2 separate regions of the Homo sapiens genome follow, and region 2 is linked to region 1. Evidence: fine-mapped expression QTL. A gene starts in region 1. The other region holds a variant in brackets. All regions are shown on one strand. Distances are between the middles of the regions. Region 1 holds the start of SKIC3 (SKI3 subunit of superkiller complex). Region 2 overlaps FAM81B (family with sequence similarity 81 member B).

Region 1 (10,724 bases):
CAATCACAAAGACTTACACCTATGTTTTCTTGTAAGAGTTTTTTAGTTTTACATTTGATTAATCAATCAATTTACTTAAAGTTTTTTTTTGTGTGTTTGTGTATGGTGCAAGGCAGGGTCCAACTTCATTCATATTTTTTTTTTCCAGCACCATTTGTTTAAAAGATCATTCTTTCCCTATTAAATGGTCTTGGCACCCTTGTTAAAAAATCAATTTACTATAAATATGAGAGTTTATTTCTGGACTTTAGATCCTATTCCATTGATCTGTATGTCACCTATCCTTAAGCCAATAACATACTACATTGATTGGTGTAGTTAAGATATAAGCTTTAAAATTGGGAGGTGTATGTCTTTCAACTTTGTTCTTTTTATTTCAAGATTTATTTTTGGCTATTCTGGGTCCCTTGAATTACCATATGAATTTTAGGATGGGTTTTTCCATCTCTGCAGAAAAAAAAAAAGGTTCTAGGGATTTTGACAGGCATTGAATTGAATCTGTAGATCATTTTGGTGAGTACTGCTATATTAACAATATTAAATCTTCTGATCCATGAAAAGGGGATGTCTGTTCATTTATTTAAATGTTCTTTTATTTCTTTCAACAATGTTTTGTAGTTTTCGGAGTATAAGAACTATATTTCCTTGATTAGATTTATTTTAAGTATTTCATCCATTCTGATGTTACTTTAAATGGAACTGTTTTCTTAATTTGACTATAAGTGTGTTAATCAATTAAGTATATAAAATACAATTTATTTTTGTACACTGATCTGGTATACAGCCTTACTAATTTATTAGTTCAATAGTTTTGTAGTGGAGCCGTAGAATCCTACATACAAGATTACTGCAAGTATAGATACTTTTACTTCTTCCTTTCCAATGTGAATGCCTTTTATTTAATCTTTTTTCTAATTCTGTGGCTAGAACCCCCAGTACAATGCTGTATAGCAGTGGTGAGAACACACATCCTTGTCTTCTTCCTGATCTTAGTCAGAAAACTGATTTTTTTTTTCTTTTAACCATTCAGTGTAAAGTTCTGGCTTTTTTTGTAGATGCCTTTTAGTTCCCTTCTATTTCTAGCCAGTTGAATGCATAAGGATTGTCAAATCTTCTCAAATGCTTTTTCTGCATCTATTGAGATGATCACATGGGTTTTGTCCTTTATTCAGTCAACATGATGTATTACATTAATTGATTTTCAGATATTAAACTCACTGTACATTTTGGGGACAAATTCCACTTGGTAATGGTGAATAATCCTTCTTACATACTAATGAATTTGGTTTCCTAGTACATTTGTCCCTTGGTATCTGCAGGGGATTGTTTCCAGGACCTCCCAAGGATACCAAATCTTTGCGGGCTCAAGTCCCACAGTCAGCCCTGTGGAACCCATGGATAGGAAAAGTCAAGTTCTGTGAGTTCCACATCCCATAAATACCATATATTTTTATCTGAGATTGGTGGAATCTGCGGATTCAGAACCTGTGAATATGGAGGGCCAAATCCATTTTGTTGAGGATCTTTGCTCTTATATTCCTAAGGGATACTGGTCTGTGGGTTTCTTTCCTTGTGATGTATTCGTGGCTTTGGAATCAGGCATGAACTGTTTTTTTGTTTTTGTTTTTTGAGATGGAGTCTTGCTCTTTTGTCCATGCTGGAGTGCAATGGCACGTCTCGGCTCACTGCAACCTCTGCCTCCTGGGTTCAAGCAATTCTCCCTGCCTCAGCCTCCCGAGTAGCTGGGATTACAGGTGCCTGCCACCACGCCTGGCTAATTTTTGTATTTTTAGTAGAGACAGGGTTTCGCCATGTTGGCCAGGCTGGTCTCGAACTCCTGATCTCAGGTGATCCACCCACCTCGGTCTCCCAAAGTGCTGGGATTACAGGTGTGAGCCACCGCGCCCGGCCAAACTGGTCTTATAGTTTGGAAGTGTTCTCTCCTAATTTTTGGAAGAGTAGATGAAGAATTAGTATTAATTATTCTTTAAGTATTTGGTAGAATTTATCAGTGAAACCGTTTGGGTCTGTGCTTCTCTTTGTTGGTAGTTTTAAAATTACCAGTTTACCCTCTTTACTTCTTATAGGTCTATTCAGATTGCCTATTTCTTCTTGAGTCAGTTTCAGTAGTTTCTGCCTTCCTAGCAATTTGTCCATTTCATTTATCTAATTTGATGACATACAGTTGTTGTATGTAAGTATTCCCTTGTAATTCTTTTATTTCTTAAGATAATGTAACCATTCTCTTTCATGATTTTAGTCATCTAGCTCTTTTGTCTTTTTTCTTGTTCAGTATAGCTAAGGTTTGTCAATTTTGCTGATTTTGTCTAAGAACCAATTTTTGGTCTCATTGATTTTCTCTACTATTTTTCCATCCTCTGTTTCTTTAATTTCTGCCCTAATCCTTATTATTTCCTCCATTCTGCTTGCTTTGCAGAAGCTTGTTTGGTCTTCTCAGCTTGTCTCTCCTGGTATGGAACCTCTGTCCTACTAGAGAGCTAGGGCCAGGGCAATTAGGGCCCTAGGATTCTCAACTTTCCGCACTTGGCATAAAGCCTCTGTCCTGTAAGTGGGGGCTGACTGAAGTAAGGGAGCCCTCAACTTCTCAGCTGCATTCATTAGGAATTTAACCTCTCCAACTTGGATTAGGAGAAGATGAGAAATCTCACAGCCTGTCCCTTTTGGTGAGATACCATAACTGGTGATTGGGAGCCGAGGGGGAGTAGTCCTATCTTCTTGGCCACACCCACCTGAGTGAAACCTCTGTCAAAACTATAGTTCACTGCCACAGACCCTTCTTGCTATTCTTACCAAGTTTTCATAGATTTTCTTGAATAAATGTTTCTTCATTTGGTGTATGACCTTAGGACAGTTTCCAGACACTTTAAGTGTTTCAAATATTTAATAGTTTTTATGTATAGTTTAAAAAAGAGTTTTCATTTGGTTTGCTTGTTTTCTTGGGAGTTGATCTACAAAGCTCTTGCGTTGTTATCCTGAAAGTAAAACCAATTTGCTATTTTCTTCCTACAATTATTATCCAGCTTAACTGCTCTATCTTAGCCTGCAGAGTTTTAGAAATGATAAATCACAGTGTCAAGAATCTAACAGCATACCAAACTGGTATAATCATAGAGAGAGGAATTATTTTAAGTTTAAAGACCAACATTTTTACTATATAGTTGAATATACCTAAAACAAAAACTTCAAAGAAACTGTAAGCTGCACTCAGGACTAGCATTATTTCTAGTAATATTACAGTCTTATTTTCAAACACATTGATATATACATATTATATGTTTGGATAAAGCAAATAAGTAATTGCATTAATGCATTTAGACCAAAATATTTGGCATAAAACAAAAAAGATATAAGTATAAAAATCAAAGAATAAACTTGTAATCTTAAATTTGAATGGAAAGTATCAGTATGATCTCACAATTTATTTTTCTCATTCTAAAATATTATATACTTTCTAGATTTGTCCACTGGAAAGGTCTAGATGCAATGAACACCCTAACACTCAGACTGTGGTCTCTAAATACAAGATGGGACAGGAAATATGTATTGTGGACATGGAACTCTGTTAAAGCAAGCTGTCAAATACTAATGGGGATGGGTCAAAAGGACTCAGAACCACCTGAAGGGGCTTCCACTGGCCAAAGATAGGACAGTTTGAATATTAACAAGTATGTGAATGCAAAAATTTTTTTTATTTTTTATTTTTTAAAAATTTTTTTATTTTTATTTTTATTTTTTTTTCGAGACGGACTCTCGCTCCGTCGCCCAGGCTGGAGTGCAGTGGTGCGATATCAGGTCACTGCAAGCTCCGCCTCCCAGGTTCACGCCATTCTCCTGCTTCAGCCTCCCGAGTAGCTGGGACTACAGGCGCCCGAAACCACGCCCGGCTAATTTTTTTGTATTTTTAGTAGAGACGGGGTTTCACTGTGTTAGCCAGGATGGTCTTGATCTCTTGACCTCGTGATCCGCCCACCTCGGCCTCCCAAAGTGCTGGGATTACAGGCGTGAGCCACCGCGCCCGGCCGTGAATGCAAAAAATTTAAGCACAAATATAGAAAAATCTATGCATTCATACTACACTAAAAAAAATAACAAACCTATATATCTCAGTCATCTTTGGAAGTTTCTGGGATGTTGTGATCCACATTCGGATTCCCTTTTAGGAATGAACAATTGCCTCTGCTGAAGACAGCTGCTTTGCCCAACACCATGCCCCATTCTAGGAGCAGCCCACAACCAGTGGCCATCCAACATGCAGGTGGAAAGGTCTGTTCTCCTCACTCCTATTGGAAAGCAGCTCTGAAGCACCATACTAGTTTGAGAACTGTCATTCATAAGATGGCAACAAAATTCAGCTTCTCCTCTGCACAATCCTGCTTCCTTCATTTGCCTTTGATTACAAGAGCACTCTGTAATAAAATGCCATCTAGTCAATTTCCAGTACTGCCCATTCTCTAAGTTTAAATCACAAAGATAACTTTAAGTAATATTTTCAAAAAATCCCATGGGCACATCCAGACTATGTAATTTTAATCATCAGGAATCTACGAGAAAGGAAATACAACATATGATTACAAACACTCTTTAGTGCCAGATATGCTTAACACCAACATCTGTGTGACCACAGTAACACCGAGTGATAATAAACTAATATTACAATTAATAACCAAACAATTGTCTAAGCAGCACTTTTTAAAACATGGATCATCCTAAAAGCATCGCGTAAGGTTGACAGTAGCACCTTTGGCTTGGGAAAGTTTCAAAAACTGTTTAAGTTTGGGATTCAGCCACATTACCAACACACACACATACACACAATTTCTCTGGAATACGGGGGAGTGAATCAAGTTATACCAACGATTCCATTTGAATCAGCACTAACAGGATTATCACAGACCTGGGTAATAAAAATAAACTTTCTTCACTTCTCACCCAAACATGAATTCCTGCAAACTTGAGGTGAACTGGAAAATGACTTTTGGAAAGCTAACACGCTTTTATGGAGATGCAGAATGTTATTTTACCACACAATTAAACCAAACGGGGGTATGGACTGAAAGTTCATTAGTCGTGGTAAAATAATTTAGCGAATCGAGGTCAGTATTAAAAAAAAAAGATCTGCAAAGATGTTTTCAGTGTTTCACTATTGTTTTACATGTTTGCATAGGTATGTGGTGTACGTGTGAGTACACGGGGCCTCACATAAAATGTATTTCTTTCTTTGCATCGGGGTAAAAGGTGTTTGAAAATGTCTCAGGTTCTGCTCCCCAAAGCCTGCAGCACAGGCGGCGGCGGTGAGGTCGCCGATCCCCAGCGGGGCGCCCCTCCCCTGCCTCGCGGTACTTACGAAGGAGTCGCTCACGACCAGCACCACATTGGGCGCTTTGGCTGCTCTCCGCCTCTGCTCCCCTGCTCCGGGGGCCAGTACCGCCAGCGCCAAGGCTGCGACCACCGACACCCACAGCAGTAGCATCGCCGGTAGCGGTTCTGAGAGCCTGCCGCCGGGCCAGCCGCCTCCCTCTGGCGTTCTCTCCCTAGCAGAGCAGGGCAGGGACAGCGAACAACTCCCAAAGCTTGCAGTTTGGTTGCTTGATAGTAACGCCGAGCTTCACCCGCAGAACTACAACTCCTATCAGGCGGAGAGCGCGCACATGCGCAACAGAGAAATTCCCGCTTTTACCCACGTTAAGACCTTTTAATCAAATACCGAGCAAATCAGAACCCAGCCACTTCCAGTCACGTGAATGAGTCCTGGGAAAGGCGCATGCGCTCTCATTGCAGCCTCGGCGTTTGTAGAAGAGGAGCATCTGCTCCAGGTGGGTTTGGATTTCTGTCGGTTTTGCACAAGGGATCCTAAAGGCGATTGAAATGGTACTTAGAGAAAGAAAGGATCGGGGCCGGGGCTGTTCATTTTGGGCCGCGCAAGCGTGGCTGAGTGTTCGGCGAGAGCGTGAACTGGGCGGCGATGAGGTGGCGGCGCGGCTGTCACTTAAGTTGAATAGGGCGGTGCCTTGTGGGGCCTCTGGGTGGACCGCCTCAGGTGCGCCGTGAATGCCTTAGACCCCCCCGAATACCTTCCCAGGGAAATCTCTAGCCTGTCTCATCTTATTGCTTCTCTTACCCCGTGCAGTCAGGATTTACTGTGCTCCCATGGGGCGAGGAGCGGGGCCTAGTAAGAAGTTTCAGGCTGTAGGCAGGGGAAAGCATAGCTGTTCCTTGCCTTCAGAGAGCAAAGGAGATAAGCGAAACTGGAGGGGGAAATGGGCTGTGTGACATGTTCAGTTAGTTGACGTAGGTTCAGAATATCATTGTTTTGCTGCAGAATAAAAACCGGTCTCTTTTGACTGTTGAATTCCTTTGGAGAGTTCTGGAAGAAGCAGATTTCTGTCCCAAAGCCAAATTCCAATTTCTGTATCTAGTTTCGGGTATATAATTTGCACATCACACTAGTAGTTTTAATATTCTGACAGTTAAAAGAGGAGTTATACTACTTACTTAAGTCAACTGAATACTAATATCTGGCAGGTTTTTTTTTGCCTAAGATAATTGTAGTAAGGAACAGATTTGTTTATTTAATACTCACATGGCACTTAGGTGCTGAGCGTTATACTAAGCATTTACTGAGCATCTGCTGCGTGCCACGTACTTTTATATGGAATATTTTCTATAATCCTCACTTTCACCATATTGCAGATAGGAAAACAGGCTTAGAGAGGTTAAATGACTGGCCTGAGTTTACACAGGGAGCCAGTCAGAGCACGACTGAAAATTGAAGAGTCTGTGCCGTAACTCACTAAATGCTCTGTCTGCAGTTAGTTTATCTGTTAGTGTAGCAGAATTGTTACTCAAGCAGCATGATAAAGATCTGCGGGAGCATGCAAAAACGTAAACAGTGTTGGGCGCGGTGGCTCACGCCTGTAATCCCAGCACTTTGGGAAGCCGAGACGGGCGGATCACCGAAGGTTAGGGGTTCGAGACCAGCCTGGCCAGCATGGTGAAACCCCGTCTCTACGAAAAATACGCAAAATACTGGGCGTGGTGGCGGGCGCCTGTAATCCCAGCTACTAGGGAGGCTGAGGCAGGAGAATCACTTGAACCCAGGAGGTGGAGGTTGCAGTGAGCTGAGATCGCACCTTTGCACTCCGCCTGGGCAACAAGAGCAAAACTCCATCTCAAAAAAAAAACAAAAACAAAAAAACCCCTAAACAATAGTCTCAGTTTACATGAGTTTAGATTTCAGGGAAGCAAAACCAAGCATACATGAAATAATAATACAGCACGGAAGGTAATACAAGTGGGCTCTCTCATAAAAACAAATTTGTTTTGAGTTAATTTGGAATGTAGAACGTATTTTCTACCATAGTGACAATATTGACTGACATTTAAATTCATAAAAGTTATATTTAATTTTGTGTCTGATTCCATAAACTGTGCTTACTCTCTACAGCCTTGTTTCCACAGGACATGTACTCTGATGACAGGCTTACAAGAATACATCTTTTTCTTCTTTCTCCCCTTGGCAGTGTCAATAGGAGCAGGTGCTGCAGTGATTTGGAGCAAGACAGATATTTTAGAGCCTTAGAGACGTTGTGCTGGAAGAATCTAAGAGGCTTCTAGTCCTACTTCCCATCTGACATTCAGTTTATCCTAAAACATTCCTGCTGAGTGGATTGTCCAGCCTGTGCTTTTTCATCTCCAGTGATGGGAAACACTTCCATTGAGTACCTCATTCCACATTTATATAGGTCTCATTAAAAGTTCCTATTTTAAGTTGAAGTTAATCTTCCTCTATTTTTAACCATTCATTAGTGCATTTTTCTTCACTTTTACATGGATAATCTCTCCCTTTCAACAGTCCTTCCCCCAACTCCCTCGCCACCATTTATTTATTTTTCCTAGTCCCCAGTTTCTTCAGCTAGTTCTCATAATTTCAGGTTTCCTCATTGTTTTGATTACTCTTTTGTGAACGTACAACATTTTTGCTAATCAGTAATTCTATGCTATCAGAAAAGGTACTCAAGAGAATGTAACCATTTGCCTCACTGCCTACTTCCCTCCCGCCATTTTTCACTCCTGCATGCTCTCCTCTAGAATACTGAGTTCCGAAAGCCCTCTTTGGAAAGTGTGGGTCACAGATGCTTCTGTGGCTTGTTTTTCCCCAGGCGTGTGCTCAAAGTGTGGCTCAATAAACATCTACTGATTGAGACACTTCCCTCAGTCACTCATTTTTTTGTTAACACTGGTAAGCCTTGGAAGCTGGAAGATCATTAGCTATTTATTGAATATGTATTATCCAGTAAGTGTTGGGTATATAAGAAGCTCTGAAAATATAAGACTTACGTCTAAGAATTTATTGAATTGGGAGACATAATTGAATTATGTCTATATAGGATAATAAAAATAATATTTGTTAAGTTGCAGTTGAGTAGCTCAGTTTGGAGGTTTGGAGGAGGGAGTGATCCCTGTTGTAGGCTGTACTCTAGTATTCATGTAGTGTAGTAACTAATATGAAGAGGGTACTCATGTTTGATGATAGCTGTCTTGAGGAATACAGATGCTTCTTATGGTGGGTTACACCATGATAAACCCATTTTAACTTGAAAATATTGTACGTCAAAATGCATTTAATATGCTGATAAGCCCATCGTAAAGTCAAAAAATTGTAAGTTCAACCATTTGTAAGTCAGGGGCCGTTTGTATAGGTAAGAAGTTTACTTCTTGAGAGAGCAAGGAAGAAGGAGGTTGCAGGACGGTTGGGGATTTGAATGTGTAGGGAAAATTTTTAACACTGAGTTATCACACTAGTTGTTTTAGGAATGGCAAGTAGCAAAGTTGATTGAGAGAATAATAGTAGATAGGACATTATTAGTATAGATTATGTCCAAGTACTCCATCTATGTGTGTATCAGGTAAGTGATGTAATTCTTACTTTACCAGTGAGGAAATGGGCTTTGAGTAATGAAGTCATGTACCCAAGGCCTAATGGCTTTGATCCTAGATCCATTTGATTTCCTAAGCTCACTCTCAACTAGGGTAAGCCTTGGTGGGTGGATATGACAGAGTAAAGGGGCTGACAGGATCTAGGGTACTTTGTAAGAACAGAGTTGAAGTGACTGAGTGATAAAACTAGATTGGGTGAGGAGGGCAGCCAAGTGTTAGCAGGGCTAAAGAAGCCAGTGAAATAGTCAAGTTTGTACTTTTTTTTCTTTTTTAACTATTATCTTACTTTCCTAAACATTGTTTGGATTACCATACTTTCTTTTCTTACCAGTAAGACTTTCTACTGTTGGAGTGACACTTCTATTTCGGTAGATCACTAATGAGTGTTTTGGTTAGGGAAACTTTTCATTCCTTGTTCATCCCTACCTGCCTCACCTAAACATTGTTTACTTCCTAGTTCTGAAGTAGCATGTTTTTTTTCACTTTATTCAGTTTTTCAAAACCACTTCCATTCTCTGCAGGGACCATTCTAGATTGTTTTTTGTTTGACAGAAGCCACTTCAGGGATGCTATCAAAATATCCTTAGAATTTGTAGATGTGTAGTTGTGTTACTATTTTTAATGACTATTTAAATGCATTGTTAACATTAAAAAAATTTCTCTGTTTTCATTAGATTACAAACTAATATAATTGTATTATATTATACTCCTTATGTTCCTTAGAGAAAAGTTCTATTCTAATATAATTAGGCTGCAAATTGGGTGTAAATAAGTACCCTTAGTTGTCTGTAGATGTCCTTGATTCAAAGCAAAAATGGCACAGAAATAGTAGATATTCTTCTTTGGCTCTATTTTTTTATATTGACATCAGTGTATTTTGGGTTTCTGAAATGGTTTCTCAAAATCCTTCTGATCTCTTGTAGAAGTTTCCTTTTATCATCTGAGGCCCAGGAATATAGTTTAGACCAATTCAGAAGTTTGGAGATTAAGAATAGTGTCTCTCTGGGAAAGAATAAAAATACTAAAAATTATACATAATTATTTCTCATGTTTTAAATTATGAATTATGAAAATTGATGCGTTAAAAAGTTTAGAAGGTTTTGGGTTGTGGGTGTCATCCTTTTTATATGATTGTCTCATACTTGTTTTTGTTTAATTTAGATGGAAAATGGGTAAGGAACAATCAAATTCAATTCGGGAAGAATATAGAGGTGGTAATAATTGGTAAAAGGTAAGTGTCTACAATGCTAAATAATAAATTGGAATCTATTTTTACTTAATGATTGTTTTTACTCATTCCTTTCAGAAGAAAGATTTAATGGCATAGTTTTTTTTTTTTTTTTAATGTCAGACTATGGGTCATTACAAAATACCTTTTGTTATTAGATTTAAAGATATCGTTTTTTTTCCTTTCTGTAATTAGCTTCCGTTGTCATTATCATTACTATTTATTATTATTGTTGTTTTAGCTTTGTGGAATCTTTGTATGAGCATATTGGAATATTATTTAAGGTTTCATAGCCTCAACTGGGGACATATATATCATACCTATATATGTTGTCCTTGAGGAATATCATTGCCTTTATGGCATGACTGTCACTTTCTAACTCTTTTTAAGTGCAGTTGTTGCCACTTTTTATTCTTGATTTATGTTGGATAAAAATATTTTGGGTTGGTAGTAGAAAAACTTGAGTGAAAACGTACAAAATGAATACTCTTATTTAAAAAAAGACAGTTGAGATTGAGGAGAATAGTGGGAGGAGAGG
Region 2 (10,724 bases), 100 kb after region 1:
AAAAAGCATTGCTGAGAAGGCAAATTTATATTGTTATAAGCAGCTTCTATTAGGTGGAGATAAATATATTTCTGAATTGCCTGAGACCAGCCTTCCTGTGCCTCAGAACAAGTGTTATGCATATGGTTGGAAGATTTTTCTAAGAAATAGATTCAGAATAAAGAATCAACTCACTGTGCCCAGATTTACATAAACAGTGGTGAATAATTTGTAAATATTGGGAAATATATAGGCAGCATAAAGTTTTTGTGTCAAGTAGCTTCTAAGAAAGCCCAAATAAGATCTAGTATTGCAAAGGATCTTGATACTGCACCAGCCCACCCTTTGCTTCAGGAGAGGAGCTTTTTGTGCTTATGAGGTAGTAATCATTACCCACCAGGGCTTCAGCAACCGGGGATAGATTGAATGCCCACCATGTGCCAAGCTCTTTATCGCCTCATTTAATTTTCACTTTTTTTAAATAGTGGCTATTATCCTTATTTTACAGACCAAAAAACTTTTATAAAGAAGTCTCAGAGAGATTATCTTTTCTAAAATTAACAGTATTCTTAGGCAAGCAGAATCTGGCCCCAAAGATAGTTTCCAATACTGTTGTCAAATGTTGTTAATGATTGCTGTCAACTCAAAGAAATGTAAAAAGGTTGAGGTGTGTATCTTTGAGTCTGACTTAGTTATCCTACAAACCTGTATTCAGATGCTGCCATTTACCTTTTGGTACTATCTGAATTCTAGGAGGAAACTTGGGAAGAAGGGAACCTCCTCCCGAGGATTAACTTTGCAAATTTAAGCCTATGTAATGATAGAGAATAGAATACTCCACTCTTGTTACGTTTTGAAGTTGATATAAGCCGGCTGAAGTGAGCTTATTGTTTCATTTAATCATTTAATCCTTGATAACATCACAAATGCCGCCCCTTGGTTTTCTCTTTGGCTTTTTCTAACCTGTCTTCCCAGAGTTCAACTTTCTTTTGGCCATCCCATGTTAAGGTACAAAGGACCTTACTTTTTTTTTCTTTATCAACTAATCCCCGCAGAGAAGATAGTTGGTAAAATCTCATGGGTGTGTATATGTTCATTCATTCATTCTTTTCTTTCTTCCTCTACCTATCCATCCATCCATTCCTGCATTTTTTGAATATTTAATGTTGGTATTATGAATACTTCGAAGCTGTTAAGTGCTATGTGATAGAATTTTGGCCTAGAGACTACACGGATTCTTTAGTATAAGAGTCATTTTGGGTTGTAGGGGAGGGGGTTTGTCCAGTACCATGTAGGCCCCACTCCATTTGAAGTCTATCCCTGAATGTTTGCCTTATGAACACAGTGCATTACTTTTTTGTAGAAGGACCTACTAGATGAGTACTAATGGCTTTTACCTGGCTGTAATGGCTATTGGGTTTGCTTTGATGGCCAGGACTTTTGGAGGAAACATCCTTCACTGGACAGTAGCATCAGCATCTTGTGCACCTCCAGTCAATGCCCATAATGTTGCTTCAGCTGTTAGCCTCCTTCTCCAGAGACAATTGAAAGAAATGCTTTTAAAATAGAGGAATAGTTCCACATTATAGTTTGTTGCAGGAGAAATCTATATTTTGTACTTCCCTCTGCTTTTGTCCATTGCTAGAATTATTGCAAGCCAAGGTATTTCTTCTCATACATAGTAAAAGAATCTTTTTTAAGCTCAAGTATTTTTAGATACTAATCTGAATCAGAGTTGTATGCCAGTGCACCATGGAACTTGTCTTTCTTTTCCCATAAAGATAAAAAGCTCTGTTTACTTGTATTAATACCATTTATCAAGTACAGTGCCTGTTATGTATCAGACACTAGTATTAGATGGTTTACATATATTTAGAGAAACAGTGTAGCATAATGTTTAAGAACAAGTTCTCTGTTCTTGTGAGTTCAAATCCTTGCTCTATCTTTTACTGGCAATATGACCTTACATAAGTTATCTAACCTCTCTGTGCCTCGGTAATAGGCATCTGGTAGATTAAATGCATTAATCTATGGAAAGTACTTTGAGCTATCTCTAATATCTGATGATAGCTCAATAAATGTTTTTTCTAATGCCTCAGTAGCCTACAAGATAGGTATTGTTATCCCCATTTTAAGATAAGGAAATTGAGATTCTGAAATTAAGGAATATATCCAAAGTCACACTGCTAATGAATGGTGGCACTGGGTTTAAACTCTGGCTTGTTAGGCCACAAGACCCTTCAAGACTTCTCAGCATAGAAGTTTGGGTTATTTTTCTCTTTTCTCAGTGCATCTTTTGAGACTGTTGAGGAAGACCTGGTTTATGACGTAGTGCTGAGTTCATCAATGATTTCTGATTTGTAAACATCACATTTGTATTTGTAAATATCTTCTGAAAGGAAGTAGCAAAACTCTACAAAAGAACAGAGAGTTATGGAAATTTAGTCTATGGAGTCACATTTTTATAACTGTATATCAAGGGAACGATTTGACATAATATTAAACCCTTAACACAAGTGTGTGTAACTCTAATCTGAAGAGGGAAATGCCTAATTAGGTAGAGGCCAAAACAGCCTAATGTTTTTCCTGGCAACCATCCTTCCTCTCTCAAGGAGGGCTCCCCACCCTCTCTGCATTGGAGAAGATGCAGCATGTTTATTTTATGGCATGGAAGGAGACTCAAGAAAGCATTTGTAACTATTCTTCACTGTGTTGCATAATATACCTTGTCAAGTTTACACTGTAGGTTGGGGTCCTCTTTGATAAATGGAAAACTAATGGTGGGTCTTGAAGTAATACTAGTAGAACTTCAAGTTGATTACTGACACCGTCTGCCAGCAGGAACTCCCAAGGAACACTGAAACCTTCAAATGATTACACTCCCTCTCCTACTTTACTGCTGCACGTCTCCCCATACTCGCCCAGGACTCTTCTGCTGTTCTTTCAGTGTTAGGTGTCTTCAGTGTTAGGTTGTTCTTGGTCTCTACTTCTCACTGTAGTCTTCATGTCCCCAACCCCTATCCCACCTAACCAAGGCAATGCCTTCCTCCCCAGTAATTCCAGTAACCATTTCTCTGCTGGTGACTTCCAAAGCTAAATCCCCAGTTCAGATCTTTCTCTCATGCTCCAGGCCCAGCTCTCTCACTAACCACTGGACATCTCCATTTGGATGTCCCATAGATGCCTCAAAATCAATTAGTTTAAAACATCTCATTATCCCCTCTCTGCTGTATTATTTCCCTCCTTTCCCACCCAAATTTGCTTCCCACACTGCATCTAATGTATTCTCTACACTGCAGCCAGAGGGATCTTTCTATAAAATGCAAATCTGTCACTCTCCTATTTAAGATCTTTTAAAGGCTACTCTGGATCCTTAAGATAAAGCCCAAGTTTCTCAATATGAGTTACAAAGTCTTTTGTGATTAGACACCCCACTTTCCCTAACTTCTCCAGCCTTCTCTCTCACTACTCACCTCCCCTAACACACAGCATAGGCTCTGACCTACACTTATTGAGCTTCTTGCAATTTCTGGCATATATCCCCATTCTCTTTTGGCCTCCAGGCCTTTGCTCAGGCTGATCAATCTGCCTGAGCCCTCACCTCTACCAATCAAGCCTCTTTCCCTTGACTTATGTCTGCTTATACATTGGAGGTCTCAATTTAGATACTCCTTCTTCTGGAAGACCCCTCTGCCTGATTCCCTGTGTTTCTGGTAAACACAGGGAATGTGTTTCCTCTCTCTGGCTCTCCCATTACACTCTACTTTCCCATGTATTTGTGATTTTAATTGTTGGTCTTTTCCACTAAACTATAAATTCCCTGAAGGCAGGGTTTGTGTTTAGGTTGTTCAATATTGTATCCACAGTGGCTAGCCCATGGATGTATGGAAGCTGGAAAGATAGAAATAGTAATACTTCACAAAAACTTTGGAGATCCCTTTTGTAAGGCAACAATGTGCACTGTGTGTGTGTGTGTGTGTGTGTGTGTGTGTGTACTATAGATCAAATTTTTCCTTCTTGGTGTTTTGGGATGCTACTTGCTGCTACTATGGGTGAAGCCAATGGAAGGGAGTCTATGTTTGGAAAATTAGAAGACGGGAGGGCTGCTGGTGTCTAGAGTACTCTGGGAATGCTGTTTCTTTGACCAAAGTCTTGGGCCTTGCTGCTGTCCTGACTACCAGATGGCAAGCATATATGCCTCACAATGGGGCTGAGAAAGCAGTTACCTGTGTGGCAGAAGGGGAGGGATTTGTCCTTAATTTTTAGTGCAGAAGTAAAACACTTTGAACATGACCATCTAGTCCTCAGTATGAATAATTTCATATGATTTTTCCCCAAAGAGCAAGTTTAAAATTTTTTATTCTACATATGTAAGATGTACATTGTGGGTTTTAATATACACTGTGATACCTCAATCAAGCTAATTAACGTATCACCTCACATAGTTACCATTTTTGTGTGTGTGGTAAGAACACTGAAGATCTCTCAGCAAATTTCAAATAGACAGTACATTATTAAGTATGATCCACATGCTGTACATTAGATCTCCAGAATTTATTCATTTTAACTTTAAAGTTTGTATCCTTTGACTGAAATCTTCCATTTGCCTCGGCTCCCAGCCCCTGGCAACTACTGTTCTATTCTCTGTTTATTTCTATGAGTTCTGGCAACTACTGTTCTATTCTTCATTTATTTCTAAAGAGATTCCACATGTAAGTGAGTTTGTGCAGTATTTAGCTTTTTGTACCTAGCTTATTTCACTTAGCATAATGCCCTCTAAGTTCACTCATGTTGTCGCAAATGGCAAGATTTCTTTCTTCTGTAAACCTGAATTATATATATATGTATATACATAGATGACAGTTTATCCATTCTTCTGTCAGGTGGTTTCCGCATCTTGGCTATTGTGAATAATGCTGCAGTGAACATAGGGTGCAAATATCTCTTTGACATACTGTTTTCACTTTATTTTCCAGAAGTGGGATTGCAGGATCATGTGATAGTTTTATTTTTAGTTTTTTTGAACAGCCTCCATATTGTTTTCCCTAATGGCTGTACCAATTTATTGTCCCACATACAGTGCACGAGGGTTCCCTTTTCTCTACATCCTCACCAACACCTGTTATCATTTGAGTTTTTATATATCTGTTGGCTATTTGTATATCTTCTTGGAAAAACATCTATTCAGGTCCTTTGCCCATTTTTTTTATCAGGTTATTTGTGTTTTTGGCTATTGAGTTGTTGAGTTCCTTATATGTTTTTGGATACTAGTTCCCCATCAGATATATGGTTTGCAAATATTTTCTCCCATTTCATAGGTTCTTTCATTTTGCTGATTGTTTCCTTTGCTGTGCAGAAACTTTTTAATTTGATGTAATCTCACTTGTTTACTTTTGTTGCCTGTGCTTTTGGTGTTATATCCAAAAAGTCATTGTCAAAACTAATGTCAAGGGGCTTTTCTCCTATGTTTTCTAAGAGCAGGTGTTGATAATAGGAAGGAAACAACAGGAAATTTAAGGGCAGTAGGACCCTTAACTATTCAAGACTGTTTAAATGGTGTTTGTACTTAAAGTAAAAACTACCTGAGCATATTTTAACATATGCCTCAAGTCTGTAGCGTGGATCTGGATTGCAGATTCTCCAGTGCTCAATCATCCTATATTTGTGGGAAGAGAAGTCTGACATTTCCCAAAGGATTAAGTAATATTGTTTGATATGGAATAAAGTGCCATGTATATTGAGCTTCTTTAGGAGGATAGTTTTATTTATCTTTTTGGATTTCTGTCAAAATAAATGCAAGGGGAGGGAGGCCCAGTGCTCCACTGGTTCCTTGAACAGAGGTGAATTTACTGTGAAACAATGGCTCTTAAGCTTCAGGGGCTCCTGCTTGC[G/A]TGAGCTCTAGCCATGTATTTACAAGATCATTGTCATATTTACAGAAGTAAGACATTTTAAACATAATTGATGAATGCCATTGATTAAGACCACTGCCTCTTTTCACTCCCACTTCCCTTGATGTCGGGTGGTGCTGAAGTGGCTGTGGACAAAGAGAAGTTGAGTTGGGGATACATTTGGATTACAGGGATATATTCATGTTGTTCACAGTCACTTCTGTGTTGAGTTACTACTAGCTGTCCTGATTAGGAGTGGCTTCCAGGAATATTCTTATAGACTTCTGTGCTAACTCATCTGGCATCAGGACAGTACATCAATAACAAACTGAAACATCATAAGCTTTAGACTCTGAGAAACCTGGATCCACCTGCTCAATGAGCATAGTTCTTTGACTATCTAGAGTCTGTGCAAACCCGTGAACACCTCAATTTGGCATCCCAAGTAGAAGAGTGGTGATAGAGGATTCTTTGATCCTTTGATCTACTGCCCCACATGTTACTGTCCTGGCCAAGAGCAATGAAAGATCTATTGTTGGAAAACTTTTGGCCTGATTTTACACTATTATTTGAACTACAATCTAATTTAGAACATTTTAGAACATTAGAACATTTAGAACAAGGAGAAAATGTATATTTTTTTCAGTTGCTGTGTATCCTCTCTGCTTTTGTAGCTATGTCTGTATAGCAAAAAGAGAGTGAGATGACTTGACTCTTAGTCTGTATTAATTCCTAATTTAACCCTCCCTACAATCATTTGTTTAGTTCATTACAAAGAGTTACTCTTTCAGCCTATTATATTTGTTGTTGTTTTTATAAAATATTTTTAGTAGAAACAAAAATATTATATAAAAATATAAAAGCTTTCATAAATCCTTAATGTAGAAAACAGAAGTTTTTTAAAAAATAGAATCCACTAAGTTTGTTGTAAATTCTTACCTTTTTTGGCATACAGTATATGCATATTATGTTTAACTTAGTTAAAACATTTTATGACAAAAGTGGATCATATCCATATTGCTTTTAAACTTGTCTTTTTCACCTAACAGTATATCTTGGACATCTTTCTGTGTTCTTTTTAAAGGGCTGTCCAGCATTGGGTGGTGGGGGGAGTGGTCTTGTTAATACCATTTAGTCAATCAATTCCTTATATTTGGGTGTTTTCTGGTTTTGGTGTTTCTTTTCCTTTTTTTTTTTTTTTTAACTATAACAAATGATGCTATAATGAGCATTCTTGTTCATATATCTTTGCACACTTTGGGAGTTGTTTCCCCCGGTAATATAAATTTCTAGCCATGGATTGCAGGATCAAAAGATATTTACATTTAAAAACATTAACAGATGTTCTCAAATTGCCATCTAAATCATTGTACCAATTTATAGACTCGCCAATAATGTATGAGAGTGCACTCTTTCTCCACCCTTGCCAGCCCAGTATTATCAATCACTTTAATCTTTGCCAATCTTGAAAATAGTAGCTAAGGGTTTCTTAATTTTTATTTATTTAACAGTAAAGTTGGACATCTTCTCATACCTTCATATTATTATATTCTTCTGTGGCTTGCCTGTTCATATCCTTTGCCCATTTTGAAAAAAAATTGATTATTTTCTTACTTACTTGTAAAAGTTATTTGGGATTACTTGGGATATTAGCCCTCTGTCTTAGCATGATACTTGGTTACAAAGGACACTTACCATTGCATTATTTTAATATTTCTTACTTTTTCGTTGGATACCATATCATCACTGAACATACTGCATTTTAAACTCTTAAATTAAATTCTGCTATGAAAATCCCTTCAGTTATAGACTCAATGATGCTGCATGTGGGTTATTAATAGCAATAAAAGGAGATGTTTCATAGAGTTAAAACATTACAGAAGTGAGCATTAGTCAAAAATTTACTCAGAAGGTAAACTTGTTCTGTATTAGGGGAGGAAGTTGTCACTTTTCTTCCCTAAGCCAAGGAAGGAGCCTAAGTCGGAAGCAAAGTTTCCATTGCCAAGCTTACATAAGTTCTGTGATTAGAAATTAGTCCTTGTTATAGCCGAGTGCATATCCTGAATAGTTCATTTTTATGTTTCATGAATATACTGCTCAATATTAGGCTCTATATTTAATATTTATATCTAGAAAAGTTAGACAATTTTTTTTTTGAGACAGAGTTTTGCTCTTGTCACCCAGGCTGGAGTGAAATGGCGTGATCTCAGCTCACTGCAACCTCTGTCTCCAGGGTTCCAAGTGATTCTCCTGCCTCAGCCTCCCGAGTAGCTGGTATTACAGGCGCACGCCACCACACCCGGCTAATTTTTGTGTTATTAGTAGAGACGGGGTTTCACCATGTTGGCCAGGCTGGTCTCAAACTCCTGACCTCAAGTGATCCACCCACCTCAGCCTCCCAAAGTGCTAGGATTACAGGTGTGAGCCACTGCACTTGGCCAACAATTTTTAATTGTATAGGAAACTAGCATTTTTGAAGTACTTCTGAATTTAGCACCTAGGTCAAATTACGTTGGATATGTTTTCATGGAAACTGTTGTATTCTCTTATTTTGCATGGTTTGGCTCTTAATTGCTTATAATTCTGGTACATATTGAGTACAAGGAAAATATATTTTAAATATGCATAAGTTAGACTTGCTACAAACATTGAGATTAGAAGTTGCAAACTGACCACTAGGTCATATCTGCTCCACAGGCGTATCTCACATAGTTTGAGAACTATTTTGAACTAGTTGCTAAAGCTTAAAAATAGAGGAATTTCTCTTGAAAAGTGGAATTTTGGATAATAATGGATTTTATATATATATATATATGTTAGTCATGGACTGTCACTACATAGTAGCTATTATTTTTAGACAGAGTAAGTGCTCTCCAATTTGCCAGAGCTCCTGTCATTCTTTAATATATTACAGCTGGCCTACTTCACTCATGTACCTTATGTAGATTCCTCTTTCGTTATTTATAGGTATATATATACATAAAGGCAGCTATATAAAGAAATTTCTTAGTTTTTTCATTAATAAATTCAAGACATCCGAAGCTTCTTTGCTTTATTATTTTTCTGGTACATTCGTCTCCTTAAAAGGAGACATTAGAAGCAGTAAACATCCCAGAGATAGTAACTTTCTTCTTCAGAACTTTTTCCAACAAATCACTCCATTGGCTGATGAAAAAGAAGATGACTGAAAAGGTTTATACTTCCTGGAGTTCCACTATCTTGCGCTGTAATTTCTTTAGGTCTTTCTGTACTTTATATTTCTCTAAATCCATCTTTGTTTTCTGTATTTGTTGGAGGGAGCTGAGAGAGTCATGAATTGATTTAAATCCTGTAAGAGGGTAAAAGAATAGGTACACTTAAACAATGCATTAGAGCTTTTTTTTAAAAAAGTTGCTAATCGGCAGTCCTGCCATAATTGATTATCATTTAATTCCAAGCGCATTAAATTCTATGAAGACCAGCCTAAAATTGTACATAATATATTTCTTGTATGTCATGAAGATCCATTCACAATAGTGTTTCAACTTATATCTAGTTATCTGGTTTCATTGTGAAATTTATTTTTCTCCTCCTCAAATATATTGCATAATTCTATATTGCAAGAGAGAAATTTAAAATATTTTATTCTTTCTGAATGCTTTGATGAGAGACTTGTGTGATTTTTTTTCAGTCTTGTTACCAAATTGAAGGTAAAGATCACAGATGAGATTTTAAATCTTCTCTGAAAGTAGCCTATTTGAGGGACCTAACAGCGGCCCCCTGCTGCCCTCCTCCCTCCTAGCACTTTGTATCTCTCTTATGCATGTCTAGTCACTCCTGACCACAGACCTATCAAACCTCAAGGCCTTAGGGCACAACCCATTTGTTATTCACTGGGGCCTTTCACAGAGTCGTTTCTCAACACATTTTTATTAAAGGCATAAAGCAGCAAACCATTAATTTGAAGTTCCCCCTTTTTAGAACTCCTCCTCATTAGTAAAATGAAAGAACTTGCAGGTGGTAAATTCCTTTTCAGTTCACCCTGAAGTTTTACTAATGGAATAAGTAAAATTAAACCTCTGATAGTTAAACAGAAAGCAGAGCCTTTAAAAGAAGGGCCAGTTAAGTTTGGGACATGATTCCTGGCCAGATAATTCATTATTTTGATATGACGGTGGGAGGGGTATATTGTGAGGGTTGAATTTCCAGGCAGCAAATTCTACTTATATGCCAGGAACATCTGGCAGATTGAGACCCTCATGTCCTCCCAAGGCACCTCCAAGGTATCTCTATACAGGACCAAATTTGGTAGAATTTACACATGAATTTTTCTGAGATCTAGAAGACAAAAGAAAAAAAATTACTTGGGACTTTCTCTAGGAAAGAAACTCTTCTGAGTCCTGGTAATTCCCTCAGAATTATGACTCAAGGCAGATGGCTGCACCACAGCACCTATTCCATGTCCTTCCCTTTGAGAAATTAGATGAGCCTTTCAAATTAATCCTCTTTGATGTTAGCTCAGCTTGACACTGCTGCCATTAGCCTCTTCAAAATAAAAGCAGTCATTATACTGGACTCTGCTAATTCATCCCTCTTTCTCACTTCTAAAGGTCAGGTCTCCAGTCTGACATCTGTCCAAGCTCATTACTTGTAGTTCAATGAGAAGGGCATTTGATTTAGGCTCTTAATTTCATAACATACCCACAAGTCACGTCTTGGGTATGTCCAAGGATTTTCCAAGTCTGACAATTCCATGAATTAGTAAAAATTCCATGATCTTAGTAAAAAAAAAAAAAAAAAAAAATTCACACCAATGGCAGGCCTGTGACATTGCCAAGTGAAGAAAGTTAATTTATTTATATGCCTTCCAGTATAATA

Evidence for each region. PIP is the estimated chance that this variant, and not a neighbour inherited with it, causes the effect.
Region 2: its variant is fine-mapped to the expression of SKIC3 in whole blood (INTERVAL, PIP 0.91).

What each region holds. Positions count from the first base shown.
Region 1 is chr5:95,550,046-95,560,769 of GRCh38, reverse strand. SKIC3 (SKI3 subunit of superkiller complex) reads left to right here and starts at 5,793. Exons shown (of 43, transcript NM_014639.4): 1 at 5,793-5,834; 2 at 10,120-10,189. It overlaps ARSK (arylsulfatase family member K), which reads right to left and starts at 5,669. Exons shown (of 8, transcript NM_198150.3): 1 at 5,366-5,669. The coding sequence starts at 5,491.
Region 2 is chr5:95,448,620-95,459,343 of GRCh38, reverse strand. It overlaps FAM81B (family with sequence similarity 81 member B), which reads right to left. Exons shown (of 10, transcript NM_152548.3): 10 at 8,903-9,195. The coding sequence ends at 9,062. Among named protein-coding and RNA genes, the nearest start is that of FAM81B, 63 kb to the right of the region's middle. The variant G/A (reference allele first, on the strand shown) is at 5,871.